Regions from separate parts of the Homo sapiens genome. Here region 1 is linked to region 2. A link means that fine-mapping ties the variant in region 2 to the expression of a gene that starts in the linked region. Tissue or cell type: whole blood. Region 2 holds a variant in brackets; the other region holds the start of a gene. All regions are shown on one strand. Distances are from middle to middle.

What was found. PIP is the estimated chance that this variant, and not a neighbour inherited with it, causes the effect.
Region 1: it holds the start of SCML4, and the variant in region 2 is fine-mapped to the expression of SCML4 in whole blood (TOPMed, PIP above 0.99).

The regions. Positions count from the first base shown.
Region 1 is chr6:107,820,600-107,828,796 of GRCh38, reverse strand. It overlaps SCML4 (Scm polycomb group protein like 4), which reads left to right and starts at 4,484. Exons shown (of 8, transcript NM_198081.5): 1 at 4,484-4,671. RefSeq lists an enhancer at 6,332-6,401.
Region 2 is chr6:107,728,588-107,736,784 of GRCh38, reverse strand. The region is part of intron 5 of SCML4 (Scm polycomb group protein like 4); the gene reads left to right. Among named protein-coding and RNA genes, the nearest start is that of SCML4, 92 kb to the left of the region's middle. The variant G/A (reference allele first, on the strand shown) is at 4,655.

The sequences.
Region 1 (8,197 bases), 92 kb before region 2:
AAGAGATCTGGCACCCACTCTTGTGTAGTCTGACTAATTAGGTTAACTATTTGCTGCAAAATGGTAATCATAAGCCTTATGCTTTCCATAGCCCCTAAGGTTCTCAAACTTGTGTTGAATGATGTGGAAGGGAAGCTGTGGGGCCTCTGGAGTGTGGGAGGCTGTTCTCCCTTCCTTACTACAGAAATGGAATCTTAGCTTTTCTTCGTGTTCTTTCTCCATGCTCTCTCCTCCCTACCTTTGCTCCAAATTGATATCCAAAGCTCTAGTTTACTAGGTCTTATCCTAATGAGAGAAAGGACACTTTTTGCCCCTTTGTAATTATGGCCATATCCATAATCACAACTAAGCACTCCTCCAACCCAAAGCGTCATCCTGTTTCAGCAGACCGATGTTTTGAGTTAGAGATAAAGCAGTTCTTAGGCTTGTGAAATGTCAGAGCCATAAGTGACCACAAAGATGATCTAGTCCCTTATTTCCTTGTCCCGTGTTATAGAAAGTCAATGATTTCACCCATGTCATTGGGTTAGTGGTAGGGCTGGAACAAGTGGCAGTGCCAGGATCCATGAGGTGGAATGATTAATTAGAGTATCTTTGGGCACAGACTGCCTGGGTCAGACCTGTGTCTACCACTTCTAAGCTGTGTGTCCTTGGGCAAGTTATTTAACATCCCTAAGTCTCAGTTTCCTTATCTGTAAGATGGGAATGGTATCATAATACCTACTTCATAGGATTGTCATAAATGGGATACAAAATGGGAAGGGCTTCACACATAATTCTTCAGTAAATGTTAGCTATCACTGTTATAACAAAGGTTGTTTCGGCGGTAGCACTGACTGCCAGTCCAAGACAGAATCCTCTCGATCGGATGCTTGTGTTGGAAAACACAACTCTTTAGGACAAAGGCCATTTTCAATGTGAACGGTGTCTTTACCAGCAGCTGACAGAAGGATTACTCTTCAAATGGAGGCTACTCTAAGTAGATTTGCATTTGGGACGCCCCCAAATTAACTTGCTCCCTCTGGTTGCCTCCTGCTAACCACCAGCCCAGTAGCACTCGTGTGGAGAGAGTGGAACATGCTGCTTGTGGTCTGAGACAGAAATGTAACCACAGTGCAAAGAAAATTAACAACGTGGCACAACCTAAGCACCCTTTTCATGGGACAGGGATGTACAAGACTTAGAGAGATGCTAGCTCAGAGCGGTCACTTTTCTTCTTAGCAGGTCCCTCAGCTAATACCAGTCATCCCATCAAATTTCTTTTTTCTTACATGTTTAACTTAAATTTTTCTTGGAATTAAAAACATTTAGGATTTTTTAAAATATTGATTTAAGTTATTAAAAGCTATGTTCCTGGTTGCATGAAGAAAGAAATCCCAGTAAGTTTAAATATATATATTTTAATAAATGTGTGTATATACAGATATATTTAAATAAAAAAATTTAAGTAAAAAATATAAAGATATATTTAAATAAAAATATACATTTAAGTAAAAAACAAATATATATTTAAATAAAAATGTAAATATATATTTAAATAAAAATGTAAATATATTTAAATAAAAATATAAAGATATATTTAAATAAATATATTTACATATTTATTAAATTTATTAAATTACATAATTTAATGAATAATTTATTAAATATCAAATATTTTGAATAACATATTTAAGTAAATAAATATTGTTTACTTAAATATATACATATATATAAAAAATATATATATTTTTTGAGACGGAGTCTCGCTCTGTCGCCCAGGCTGTAGTGCAGTGGCGTGATCTCGGCTCACTGCAAGCTCCGCCTCCCGGGTTCACACCATTCTCCTGCCTCAGCCTCCCAAGTAGCTGGGACTACAGGCGCCTGCCACCACTCCCAGCTAATTTTTTGTATTTTTAGTAGAGACGGGGTTTCACCGTGTTAGCCAGGATGGTCTCGATCTCCTGACCTTGTGATCTGCCCACCTCAGCCTCCCAAAGTGCTGGGATTACAGGCGTGAGCCACCGCGCCCAAGCAATCCAGCTTTTGTTGATTTCAATTTTAGGCTTTATTACCAAGTTGACCTGTTAGATGACAATGGGTGCTTCCCACATGCACCCACCTTGAGGACAAGGACAACAGTAGCCCATCTGGGAGGAGGCAAGGAGGTTGGGCCTGAGGATCAGAGTGAGAAACCCTCACAGAGCTGGGTAGGAAAACCAGCAACTCCTTTCTTATGGGTAGATTCTGCCAACCCTTTTACTTCTTTTACAGGACTTGGAGATTATTTCTGATTACTTAAGAAATGTTATTTTTTTTAATCCTAAGAAACATTTTAGAGTGAAAATTGGTCTAATGTCTCAGCCCATTCCAGGTGCTTTAAGCTCAGTGTAGTGTGGCATGTGTGAGGCCACGGGTGTGAGTATAATAACCGCTGTCGCTGGGACAGAGATGCTGTCCAAACTTAAATCATCCATCTTCTTTCCTTTTCTTTCCTTTTCTTTTCTTCTTTTTCTTTTCTTTCTTTTCTTTTCTTTTCTTCTTTTCTTTTTCTTTCTTTTTTCTTTTTTTTTGAGATGGAATTTCACTCTTGTCACCCAAGCTGGAGTGCAATGGCGTGATCTCAGCTCACTGCAACCTCTCCCTCCCAGGTTCAAGCGATTCTCCTGCCTCAGCCTCCCGAGTAGCTGGGATTACAGGCAAGCGCCACCAAGCCTGGCTAATTTTTGTATTTTTAGTAGAGATGGGGTTTCACCATGTTGGCCAGTCTGGTCTCGAACTCCTAACCTCAAGTCCAGGAGTCCCAAAATGCTGGGATTACAGGCATGAGCCACCACACCTAGCCCATCCATCTTATTTTCTTTTTTTTTTTTTTTTTTTTGAGATGGAGTCTCGCTCTGTCACCCAGGCTGGAGTGCAGTGGCACGGTATCGGCTCACTGTGAGCTCCGCCTCCCGGGTTCACGCCATTCTCCCTCCTCAGCCTCCCAAGTAGCTGGGACTACAGGCGCCCGCCACCACGCCCAGCTAATTTTTTGTATTTTTAGTAGAGACGGGGTTTCACCATTCACAGGATGGTCTCGATCTCCTGACCTCGTGATCCACCCGCCTTGGCCTCCCAAAGTGCTGGGATTACAGGCATGAGCCACTGCACCTGGCCCATCCATCTTATTTTCTTTTCTTCTCCTCTTCCTCCTTCTTTAGTGAAATCAACTTATATGAAATGAAAATGCAAACTACCAAACCTGCCTTTTCCCATACAAAACAACAAAATTTGATGATTAAATGAACTAAAGTAGTGAATTTCTTCTTGCTCAATTAATTACAAGGCTTTGACTTAAAACAATTTTTTATATTTTCATAATAAATTTCAGAGGAGAGATTTCTTATGTACTTCTAATGTGACTCTACACATATATTTAGAGAAACCTCAAGTTGTCCATTGCAGTTTTTTTCACTCTCAGTAACTGGCCAGGTTGTGGCCTAAGCCTTCGTTAGCCCTGGTTGATATTTAGTCCCGGCTAAATTTGTTTGCTGCTCATCCCTAGGAGTAAGCCACATGTTTGTAGAATGGATGTTTCATCTTGTAGGAAATACCTGTGAATATGCCAATATCCCAGAGTGGATGAAATGGGCAATGGGGAGCCCTGCTCCACTTTACAAAAAGAAAGGAAAAGAAAAGATCCCTTCGCCGATATATATTGATTTGCTGCAGAAAATGCAATGGGGCATGGGAATGAATAGTCACTCTTGCCCTGTTTCTATCCTGTGCAGGTCCCACCACGTTGAGGTGGGTAGAGATGCTTACACACACACACATACAGGCCTGGAGCCAAAGTCAGGGCCGGCTTTAATGAACTGTACACATATGTTGTGGGCAGCCGCTGATTTAATATGTACAACCATGGTGTGTGCACACACCTGGATAGGCACACTGCTCTGGGAATCACACAGGGTCTCCTGAACAATGATGCTATTGTAATATTTCTTTTTGTTTTATTTGTCCAAAGTCAAACATTCACTCTGTCAGATCACCAGTGTCTTATAAGCCTGGTGTTGGCCCACACTGCTGCAGGATTGGGACAAAGAGACGATGTTACAGTCTGGTTTCTATGGCAACAGAGGAGGGGTAATGAAAACTGAAATGTTGGAAACACCCATTCTAACCATTGTGACATAATTCAGGTTATTACAAGGATGTAACTACCAAAGAAGCAGAAGTGTCATTACCTTGCAGCTCATGTCGACAAAAAGCTACACTGCACATTTCTCTTAGGCTGCTAAGAGGAAGGAAACACAAAACACACACACACACACACACACACACACACACACACACACACACACACACACACAGAGGCCTCGTTTTCTGCATGTAAAATGTGTGTGTTCTTTAAAAGCCAGTGGTTGGCTGGTTTTCCGGACATGATGTGGTTGAAGCTGTCATCGTAATGGAAATTCATTGCTGTAGCTATGGTAAATCGAGTTTTCTGCCTGTGCTGAATGCATTAGTCTAATGAGATGTTTGCAGCTGGAGCGCAGGGCTGCTGGAGACTAACTGTGAGCTACTAACACGGGTGGAAGATAGCTTTTGCAATACTCGGTTTGCATGTGCTGAAAGTCATCTGTCTTCTGAGTCAACACTCCCGACCTGGTAAACAACCTGCTCAGGGCTCTGGTGAACAAGCTGTAGGTAAGGGAGATGCACAATTGGAGGCGTGCCGTTGACACGGGATCTTTCTCTTGTAACTGTCAGCATGACAGGTTACCTGTTTCAGTTTTTTCTGGGTTGCATGCCTACCTCTATGGCAACGCACAAGAGTGTCCTGCACTAAAACCACTGAGTCCAGTAGGTAAACTTTAGTTCCTCATATGCAAAGTACAGCATTTAATTTATTAACCAGATCTCAGAGGGGAAAATGTAACATTGAATTATATAGTTTATAAATTTGGGCTATATACATGTTCATTACTCTTTAACTCTGCATTTAAATACCTAGAAAGTTATTTTTTTCCAAATGTGAACTCAAGTAACCGGTTAGTTATTTTTTCCCTTCACGATAATTTTGCTTTGTTTTGCTTTTTAATTTTAAAAAAATTGTACTATGTCTTGGGATAAAAATATTTACCTAAAATTTGGTTATTAAAATTGGTATGTTATGAACATGTAAAAGTGTTTTTTTTCCCATTTAATTTTATTTCAAATATCCCAGGTAGAATATTTCACATGTCTTTGTGCTGGTTTTTCCTAATTTATGAGGCATAAATAAGAATAATATTTACTGCTAGTTTCTGGTTTTAATTCGTTTTTTGGGAAAAAAACTGGTGACTATGGAGTATTAGCGGCAGTTTTCCCAAGCTCAAAATCACCTCCTTCCCAGGTGGAGCACTGTGACTTGAACCAGCTTCCACGTGCTCCTCCCAAAGCATGAGGGGTCCTCTCCAGGTTGATTGCTGGCTGGACAGGAGCGGTGGATGAGGCCAGGGTGCAGGCTGCTGAGCTGTTTTGCTGAGTTGAGGTGCTTGAGTCAAAGTTCTTTCCACTATCTGTGATCGTGAACGAGAGGTGTCTCCTCGTGTTGTCTCTAGATTCCATGACGGTACTCATGAGGGTTAGACAATCAGTGGCTTTCTGAGAAAGTGGTTTTTTACTGATCTCAGACACTACAGTACTTGAGAAAGTAATCCAGGCACTTCAGAATCAGGGTATTTGTTATATGCTGTTTTTCTTTCTTTTCAACCAGAGGAACCATTTTTGAAGAATGAGGGATATAGCTGCTTTTTTTCTCCACTTTTTTTTTTTTAAAGCAAAATAGAATATCTGGAGTGAAAGCATAAAAATAACTACAAAGGAATTCTTAGTGTGTTAAACTATCTGGGGGGTATAATATTTGTGTGGAGCATTTTTTGTGTTGCTTGGTAGAACTAGTCTGATAAAATGAGGGGCTGTTTGAGCAACAGCAGCTGGGTGAAGATTACCTAGAAAATCGGTACTGCGTGATCGTCTAAACTCAAAAGGTTAATGTAGAATCTTCAGTTTTAGGGAAATTGGTGGCTTCACAAACTATAACTTTTAAACAGGCTTTTTGACAGAATTTTTAAAAAATATGAATGTGTTTTCTTTAGCTCTTTAAATTGTGTACGTAGATGAGCTCTGAAATATTTTGGTAAATTCATCAGTTTGCTTCATTTGTGGAATTATAACAAAAGTGCAAAGCCCACAAAAATCCAGTTCTTTCATGTATAACATGTTTACATTTCTTCCCTGTGTCCCCAAAATTACTTTTATTTTGCTGCAAAAAAAAAAAAAGAAAAGAAAAAAAGAAAAGAGTAAATGAACGGTAATAGAAAGACAAGAAAACAATAAGCGAAACGAGTAAGTTGCTTTTCATCATTTCTTTGCTTTTGGTGGTGTGTTTTCGAGGCGAGGGAAATCAGCAGAAGCAGTTTCACTTTCTGGTTCTTGACTCCTGGGGGTGAGGGTGAAAGGCTGTCTCCTCTAGCAAGCAGCAGGTAAGCTAAGCAGCTCAGCCCACAGAAAACAAGCCAGACCCAAATACTGTCACTTGCTGCAAGAACTTTTATAATGAGAGTTCAAAACAATATTGACTTTAAAAAAATACTCAGTAACACTTTCCTATTAAAAAATTCAAGCACTACCCCAAAGTACAAAGATAGACTTTTTTAATTTTTAAAATTTGAAATGATGAGAAAATCATCTCTGCTGTTTATGTATTTTTAATCTCAATTTTGGATCTCAAATACTTCAATACTTTTAAGGAAACATAACTGAAGTTCCCTGAAATCATAACAAGGAATGCTCGGAGAGGAATAACCTTTCTGGGAGTCTGGGGGCTTAAATGTTAGAGTGCTTCGTAGGTCTGTTTACAATTTTGTGTGGCCTGAGGACACATCACACATGTGTCCACACATCCTTTATGACACGCACCTTAAAGAACTTTTGGTCCAGGCAGAGGTGGTGGCTGGAGCTTGAAAGCCCTCACAGGGGCCCTGTTAGGGATCTGCAGGACAATTTTCCTCCCCAAGTCCCTGCCCTCGGAAACCTCAATATCACATGGGTAGATGCCAGGGAGCCGGGATGTGCCCATCCCACTCCACAAGTCCTGAAGAGCGTGGCAGGTGACACTACCCCTCATTGGGCTGGGAGCCTTAGGATACCAAGCATCTCCAGTGTCATTCTTCCCCTGAGCCCTCAGATTTTATGTGGGGATGGAATGGGAAAGAAGGGAAAGGAGATGAGAAAAGACCCTCTTTTAATCTGATTATCATGGAGCGTAAAATCTTGTCTAACATTTTGTGGATGAAGTTTGTGAAAGCAGTTGCCTTTGGTGTGATCACACAAGCTTCTTTCTTTTGGTGGGCACATCTGATGTTTCTAAGAAGGAACTTTTAAACAATGCCTCCCTAGACATCTTATTTCTTAATTCTGCCATCTCTCAAAAGGCTAGTTTTAGATTTACACATTTTTTAATGTTTTCATTGCCTTCAAAAGCAGACAGGTGAGGAGAGAAGAGGGGGATTAAATCAGCCCCTGGGAGAGACATTAAACGGCTTGGTACAGATATCATATAACAGAAGCCACCAGGGTATCTAGTAAATTACTCTAAATTTTAATTAATGAGTCACAAAAGCCACACCACAAGCTTTAAAAATTACCCTTTTATCAATAAGGTGATAATTAACTTTCTCTGGAATTAGCAGTTCTCTCAGCCCCGGGGCAGTACACAGCCTAGTAAGTTCTCTGGAATGCTGCCAATTTTTAACAATTGGTCTTTTGGCAAACCTACTGGATTTTAATTCAAACATCTATTGTGACATTTTCCAACGTGGTCCACAGACCATTAGGATCACCCAAATCGTGGTAAAATTTCTGAGGTCAAAAGAGCAGCTTGGAATGTTTGAATCGCATTTGAATATGTCACTTTCTCCTTCTTCTTCTTTTTTTTCTTTTCTACCTTTCCCCACCCCAAACTTCTGCATTTGCAAGAGCGCAGTGCTCCAGTCTGCTGTAAATCTCTACTAGAGTCTCTGCTGTAAATCGCTGTGGGGAACCCTGCATTTGTTGATACGCCCATACCAAGTCCGAACGCCCTGGCTGCCAGCCCGTGGGTTCTAAGCGTTTTTCATTGTTGCACTCGTCTTGGTTTCAATTCTGGCAAGGGCTCACTCCTTCATGTTTTTGCAAACTCTCACCCGTG
Region 2 (8,197 bases):
ATTACGGTTGAACCTATACACTCAGCATTGAGAAATGAAACCTGCTTCCTATCCAACAACACATTTATCTAGTAGAATAACATTACAGAGAATATATGGAGAATGTCTATCTTTACAAAAGATCATTTATTTTTAAAAGGGAACAGAGTTCATCAAGAGGCATGAGTTTCATTACATGGACCCATCCATTTAGTCAGTTGGCAGATAGTGCTGAGCTCCCCTGTTGGTAATGCAGCGAGGCGCACAGGGCCCAGGTCACTTGTTTAGAGCCACACACACAGCAAGATAGCAGCAGGGAGGAAACCGAGAGCAGGTCTTCTCATCCCCGGCCCTTTGCTTTTCCTCTCCAAGTTTTTCCTTATTCCAAGTTTTTCTGCTGTCTGTAAGGCCCGTTATCCAGCACTGGCTGCGTGGGGTGTGCATCCCTGTTTCTCAGCTCAGAGGGCTGACTGCACACAATAGATGTCCACAAGGGGCTTGTGGTACACCTGTGTTGCTTCTAGCAAAGATGTGAAAGAACAGAACAAACCCCAGCCCTCATTTAGCAAAATCAAGGAGGAAACTACACTCTAGGAAGATCAATTCTCTTCTCCTCCTGGGTTTCCTGCCTTTCCCACACGGGATGTTTTCCCCGTGTCCTTGTGTTCTGGCTACATCGGGGCTGGATGACAACCACGGGGCAGGCACAGCCCATCATTCCAGCTGCCAGGGAACTTCCTCATTTCTACAAAACCCACACAAGTAGCCTACTCCACCAGACAGTGGCAGAGTTTGATCTAGTGTTTGAATTAATATGTGGAATGATGGGTAGAAAAAGAAAAGAAATAAAGGGGGAGTTCTTGATTAATGGGTATAGAGTTTCAGTTTTACAAGACGAGTTATGGAGATAGATGCTGATGATGGTTATGCAACATTTTGAATGTATTTAATATCACTGAGCTGTATGCTTAGAAATGGTAAAGATGATAATTTTTTTTTTTTTTTTTGAGACAAGGTCTTGCTCCATCATCTAGGCTGGAGTGCAGTGGCGTGATCTCGGCTCACAGCAACCTCCACCTCCAGGGTTCAAGTGATTCTCCTGCCTTAGCCTCCCAAGTAGCTGGGATTACAGGAGCCTGCCACCATGCCTGGCTAATTTTTGTATTTTTAATAGAGATGGAGTTTTGCCATGTTGGTCAGGGTGGTCTCGAACTCCTCAGCTCAAGTAATTCACCTGCCTCAGCCTCCCAAAGTGCTGGGATTACAGGAGTGAGCCACTGTGTCGGGCCATGACTTTATGTGATATGTGTTTTACCACAATAAAAAAAACTTGAAGAAAAAAAAACAGAACTGGAATCCCCCCGCCCTCAAAAACAGAAAGAAAGGAAAGGAATGAAGAGAGGTGCGTTCCTGCAGATGCCTTTGCACCTGCTTGTGTCCCAGTGCAGGCCACATGACTGGAACATTGTGGAGCTGTGTTTGTCACAGCCAAGGGCCACATGGACAAATGAGCTGTCTCATTCTCAAGCTGAGCATTGGAAAGGAGGTCATTTGGAAGGAGAATAAACTATTGACAAGCTCTGGTCTTAAGAATCCTTGCAGAAGGTTTTGATGAAAAGGTTGAAAAAGAGGCTGAGCTCGGTGGCTCACGCCTGTAATCCCAGCACTTTGGGAGGCCGAGGTGGGTGGACTGCTTGAGGCCAGGAGTTTGAAACCAGCCTGGCCAACATGGTGAAACCGTGTCTCTACTAAAAATACAAAACTTAGCCAGGTGTGGTGGTGGATGCCTGTAATCACAGTTACTCGGGAGGCTGAGGGAGGAGAATTTCTTGAACCCAGGAGGTGGAGGTTGCTGTGAGCTGAGATTGTGCCACTGCATTCCAGCCTAGGTGACAGAGCATGATTCCTTCTCAAAAACCACAACAATAACAACAACAACAACAAAAAGAAACTAAAAAGTGTCCATCAGTTTTGTAGAAAATACAAAAGCCTTCATATTTTTCCTGACACTTAGGGCCATAGAGGCCAAGCTAGAACCCTTACACCATGGAATAGGGAGTGTTCTCCAGGGTAGGAGTCCTCATCCTAATTCTCCCCATGTGCCTATGTAAATTCATTTAGGAAAAGCTTTATATTTTCAGTGATATCTTTCATTAAATTATGATATCTGTACATATTTTAAAATATTGAACTAAAAGGGAAAAATGTAATCTCTTTTTTAAAGAAGGTGCCTCCAGAGAAAAGCCTGCATTTCGTAGAATTTAAAATGGATTCTCTATTATGTCCAGCAGTTGATTGGATCCCTTTGCATTGTAAGGCTCAGGTTCTCTCTCATGTCCTGTAGATACCGAGGAAGTTATTTACTCCATAACTATTAACCAATGAATGAATGTTCCAATTAAGTTGTTTTAATCGCCCAAGGTATCTTCAATATGAACTAGAGTAATATTGAGTCACGTTGACCCCTTTGATAAAATTTTGGTAGAAAGTAACTGTATTCAAACAAACAAACAAAAGAAGTGAACACTCTTCTTGTCTAAATCACAATTTATTTTGTGGATTAAAGATGCCAGCACCTGAGACTTGAGGAGTAGAATGATGCTGGTGGTAAACCCCTTGCAGGCTTTCTACTGTTTGGGGGTGTGGAGGAGATAAAAAGCCTGAAAAAAAGAGGCCAAATGGACTCCTTCTTCCTAGAAGGCTGACCCCAGGAATCCTCTGAAAGACACCCCTACCTCTACCCTATGCCCACTCCTCAAATAACAAAATCTACTGGAAATCTCCTGTGTTCCATGAGGCGAACAGTCCCTCATGTGGCGCCCCCACTCCTCGATTCTCCGTGAGCCATTAGAGCTGGCCAGATGGCCGGGGGTCTCCCAGCCTCTCTATCAAATAGTTGTGTCTGTGTCCACTGCAGAAGATGTTCTGTTTCTGATGAGCCTGTCCAAAGAGGCTCCTGCCTCTGACAGAAGAGTAGGTCCGGGAGATGGGCCAGGCATCTAAGTAGATCCAAGGGGTTGGAAACCAAGTTCTCTGATTATACCTCAGAACAGTGGAAGCACAAGGACTGGTGGAAACAAAGGGACAGGGTATGTGAGATGCAGCCATTCGAGGCCTCCAGGACCTGCACAGGTTGTATTAGAGACCCCTTCTGGTTATTCCCCTGGACCACAACCCTGAGCCCCTGTGGCGGACCCTAAGGTACTGCTATCTGCAGGCTACTCACACCATTATCTGTTGTCCATGCTTGAGAACTAGGGTTAGAATGGCAAACCATGCCAAGAGGAGCTGAAGCAGCTTAGGAAACCAGTAGGCTTCTAAGATGAACTTCATGAACTCTCTCCTAATAGTGGTGCTTTCTGTGTTTCATTCATAAGCAACAAACCCTTTGCTGAAAAAAACTACAACAAACAAACATAAACTCCCTGGCAGAGAAGTGGGCAGATACTCTGTACCAGATCTATCCTAGCTACTGCTGAGTTAATAATGACAACTTCCAATCTGGACATGCAGAATCAAGAGGAATGAAACGGCTTCCTTTCTTCTGTCCACAATAGTTATCTTTTGCTGTGTCATAAATTACCCCCAACACTTAGGGGCTTAAAATAACATTTAGGGTCTCACAGCTTCTGTGGGTCAGGGGACCAGGTGCAGCCACAGGCCTTCTGGTTCTGAATCTCTCACAAGGCTGCATCTCAAACCTCAACTAGGGCAGGACCCACTTTTCCAGCTTTTTCACATGGTTGTCAGCAGGACTGAGTTTCCAATGAGCTGTTGGTTTGTTGCCAGATGGGTCCCTTTGCAGAGCATCTCACAGCACAGCAACTTGCTCCACCAGAGTGAGCAATGCTAGGAGTGCTGTGAACCTCTCTCAAAGTCGAGATGTCCATTTAGAAAGGAAACTTACAAGGCGTCCTCTATTCCAGGAACTTCAGCATTTTCCTGATTAAGGACCACTTTTAATTTCCCCAAGGTTCTATGAAAGACCAAAAAATTGTGGGGGCTGTGGAGGAAACAGCGTGACCACAGGATGTCCCACCCACTTCGCCTCCCCCAGCTCTCGGGAATTCTCATAAGCTTGGCGTGGAGGTTTGGCAAAGCTGCGAGATCATATGGAGGGTGGTATGGAACCTGCTCTCCTCCCGAGAGCACAGAAAGGCCATTCATTATCCCAAACAGATGACTTTGGTCAAAAATGCCTTTGGTCAAAATTTCCAAAGGAGGAAATCAACCCCTAGGCTTAGAACAAAGTCTTAGGCAAACCAGAAACATCTGAGAGGATGTAAGAAGTTCAGGTGTCAGGCATTAAAATTATGGTCGGTTGCTGTGCATCTCATTAGGGGAGAAAAAATAGAAATGTACTTAAATGGACCAGAGGGGAGTCATAAGGTTGATTCTCAGGGCTGAGTGATCTGAACTGCAGAGACAACCTTAGAGAGAAAATCCATACTGGCCAGAGACCAAGTTAATGGAAAATTTAATTGAAGCAAATGAAATGCTCAGCCTCATAGGTAGTATGGCCCTGTGCCCTTTGAACCAGAAAGGCTGGGCCAGGAGGCCACAGAGGGCCCTAAGGGAAAACTCCCTTATCTGCAAGAACAAGGGGCGGGACTGAGTTTGAGAAAAGAAAATCTGCAAACCTCCACAGGAGCCTCAGTGAAAGGCTGCATGCAGG[G/A]GAGGAAACCTTCAGGTTTTGGTCACCAGGAAGTCCGTTAGAGATTCACAGCAGAAGGCCCCTCTGCATCCCACAGCACCAAGCACGTGCTGGAAACCGGCGGTCCCCCAGAGGACAGTGGGAGAGGCTGCCGGGTGGCAGAGACACAACCACCAAGGTAGGCACCGAAGCACCTGTGTCTGGGCTCTGAGTAAAAGAGGTGCAGCTGGCACGAGCACCTGCTACTGCTTCCTGCGCCTTCTCCCTCCTGCCCCTCTCCTCGCAGGTCTCCTTTTCCTGTACTATCTAGGTGATGGCACCTGGCTAAGCAAAGAGGGGTAGCTGCTCCACAGCTCTACAAATCTGCGAACTGCACTCCTGCCTTTTCTAATCTGGGTTTCAGGGCTAGGAATCTCTGATGTTGCCATCTCTGTCAGCAAGCCGAACCAAACTGTTCACACACGGAGGCCACAGGACACTGACCATTGCCTGGGCAGGGTGTGGGGGTCGGCAGGGCTGGGCAGACCGGCAAAGGGGTCAGGCAATCAATCCTGAGCAAGGCCAGGGCTCCCAGTCTGGAGGAAGGTGGTCGTGCTGATTGTGGAAAGGGCTCACTCTGCAGCTGCTCCCTCAACTGGGAAGACTGATGCGGGAAGTGGGGGGTGAGAGAGAGAGAGAAAGACAAACAGGCAGAACTGTTTAGAGATGACAAATAGTGTCTAAGACTAGATGTTGTGGTTCTTATTGCCTTAATAGGTATTATGTGAGAATAATTTTGCATAGTGGAATTGTTGTGTTTCAGGACTTCATTTGGTTAGTGAATCCAGGTAAAATGCCAGTTTAGTTTTTAAAAATAAAATCAATAGTCCGAGCCCACTGGGCTGTAAGCAGTTAAGCCTTGTGTCCTAAGTGAGGAGAGCTGACACTTGGTCAGGAGCATCTATAGTTTTATACATAAGGTCCGTTTTCCCCTCCCTGCCGCTCTGTTTTGGGACTTTCTCTTTCTCTCTCTGGCTCGTGGCTTTCTCCTGCACCTCTTCCTCTTTCTGCTTCTCTCTTTGGAGGTTCTCTACATTTCAGGGGCTCACACCTGACCCTCCAGGACTGTAGCAGAAATGGGCTGCACCTGGGTGTCCTGGAAGCCATGGATGCAGGGGCATTACCTAACCCTATCTCCACCCCAGGCTTCAGCAAGGATCAGGGAGCAAGGGAGGAATCCACACACTCTGGACTCAGAACCCTGAAGCTTTGATCCCTAAACCGGAAGGCTTAGGCACAGTTCAGGTTCATATGCAAACAGGTATGCCTTGAGGCTTGAGTGGGTTTACATGCTTCTAGAGTGTTCTTTGGCCTCACTAATAGGCAGGCTTTATACACAGTGGCTGGAGGGAACCATAGTCCACAAGCAGGTTTAGCGATGGTGAAAAAGGACCATCAGTCTGTCCTGAAAGCTCCCAGGACGCCAAACCTTGAAAATGTGGCAGATTTCTTTGATGGGGCCACGTGTGTGTTTTCCTTTCTATTTAAGCATGCTCTCGTGACTGTGCAAAAGGCAGATCATTCTTTTTTTCTGGAGGAAAAGATTTAATGATTCTTAAATGGCAACATTAGTCTCTTGGCTGGATGCAGAGGGTTACAGAAGTGAGTAAAAAGCCACTCATTTACCTTGCTTTGTTAAGCTGGCATTCTCCACTGCAATTAAATGGCCTCACACAGGCTGGGTTGGAGCCTCTTGTTGATGAGCAGTGCCAGGGTGACAAGACAGCTTCTTTCAGATGGAAAACGATTTTGTATGGACACAGGAGGAAATTTCGACCATGAGTGCCTTCGCCTGTGAGCCCTACGGTCTGCCGGGACTCTGTGTGCAGGAGTTAGATCCTCCAACAGGTCGGCTGGCCCCATCTGGTGTTTGCTCACCAGTCAGCCACAAAAGCGCTTGAAAAGTGGGGGTTCCCTCTCCAGATACAGACTTGGTCCTTTCTTTTTACTGACTTTAAATATTGGATTTAGGTAAGAAACATATGTCACAGTTCAATTAAATTCTTAAGCTCCTAGTAGTTCTGCATACCTAGAATTCATCTGCCTCATGTTGGATGTTGAGGTGACCTAACATGTTGGATAGTGTAAAGGGTACATGTCCAGCAGTCATGTGTTTTAACTGAAGCAAGAAGAATTGAGGCTAGATGTAAGGAGGAACTTTTAGGCAATGAGATTCATAGCACAATGGCCTCACTCTAAAGGAGATTGTAAAATCTCTTTGGGGAAGCTTTCAAATAAAAGACTCAGTTATCTACCATAGTTTCTTTTCTAGACAACACCCTGCCTGAAGAGATAGGTTGGGGCTAGCTCAATGCATTCCAAATATTAATTTACCACCTTCACAATTTCTACTGTGTCTGAGTAACACTTATAGAACTGTCTACTCAAGATATTCCTTTACATTAACTCATGTCTTTTAATCTTAGCCATTAGTCAGCTTAAGCAATCATACTGTATCAGTGAAATCATTTTGTTTGATGTGCTAATTATATGTCGTGGATGTACATTGAAATACATGACAATAAAAAAACATTTACTGGTTGTCGTAGGCTGAATCGTGTATGTTCAAATTCTCGGGTATCTGGAACCCTTTTTGGAAATGGGATCTTATTTGGAAATAGGATCTTTGCAGATGTAATCAAGTGAAAGGGAAGTCATACTGAATTAGGGCTCTAATCCCATGACTGGTGTCCTTAGAAGAAGAAGGAAATTTGGACACAGATCGTGACACACAGAGAAAACACCACAGTGGAGGCAGAGATTGGAGCGCTGTCTCCAGCCAAGGAACTCCAAAGATTGTTGGCCACCAGGGGATGCTAGAAAGAGGCCAGGAGGGATTCTCCCCTAGAGTCCTGAGAGGGAGCCTGGCCCTGTGGACACCTTGATTTCAGACTGGTAGGCTCCAGAACTATGGCAGAATAAATTTCTGTCGTTTTAAACCACCCGGTTTGTTAGTTTCTGCAATCCTAGGAAATGAATATACCCATGTGGTTCCCTGTCCCGCCAGTGGAAAGCATTTAACATTTGGGGAAATGCTGGGCTGGGTGCTTGTGAAGGTCCTTTTCCTTCCTGCCACCGAATGATGAGGGCCATCCATGCATCTGTCACTTTTACGCTTAGCTATGATGTATCAGAACCCCTCTATAGAAAAGTGCGGAAAATGCAGTTTCAATCGGGTTTGAACAGATCCATTTCATCAATTCTGGAAGCCACCACAGTGTGTGCATCTGAACGTGCTGTTCACTCGCGGCCACCCAGGAGCCACTTTACAGAGCCACATCTGGGGCTTGGTTGATTTGTCTTGACAGTTGTCCACCTGGGCAGACTTTGGAACCACCAGCACATCCTTTGCCTGGGTAGAAGGTATTGCTTGATGCCCTCCGAAGCCTATTTTCCCTTCTGATAATTCATTTGGATCACAGCCCAGAGGTTAGCTTTTATTACCTTTGATCTCACCCACGGGCATCAGTAGTTTCTTTCTTTATAATTATTTATTTATTTTTGAGACAGAGTTTTGCTCTTGTT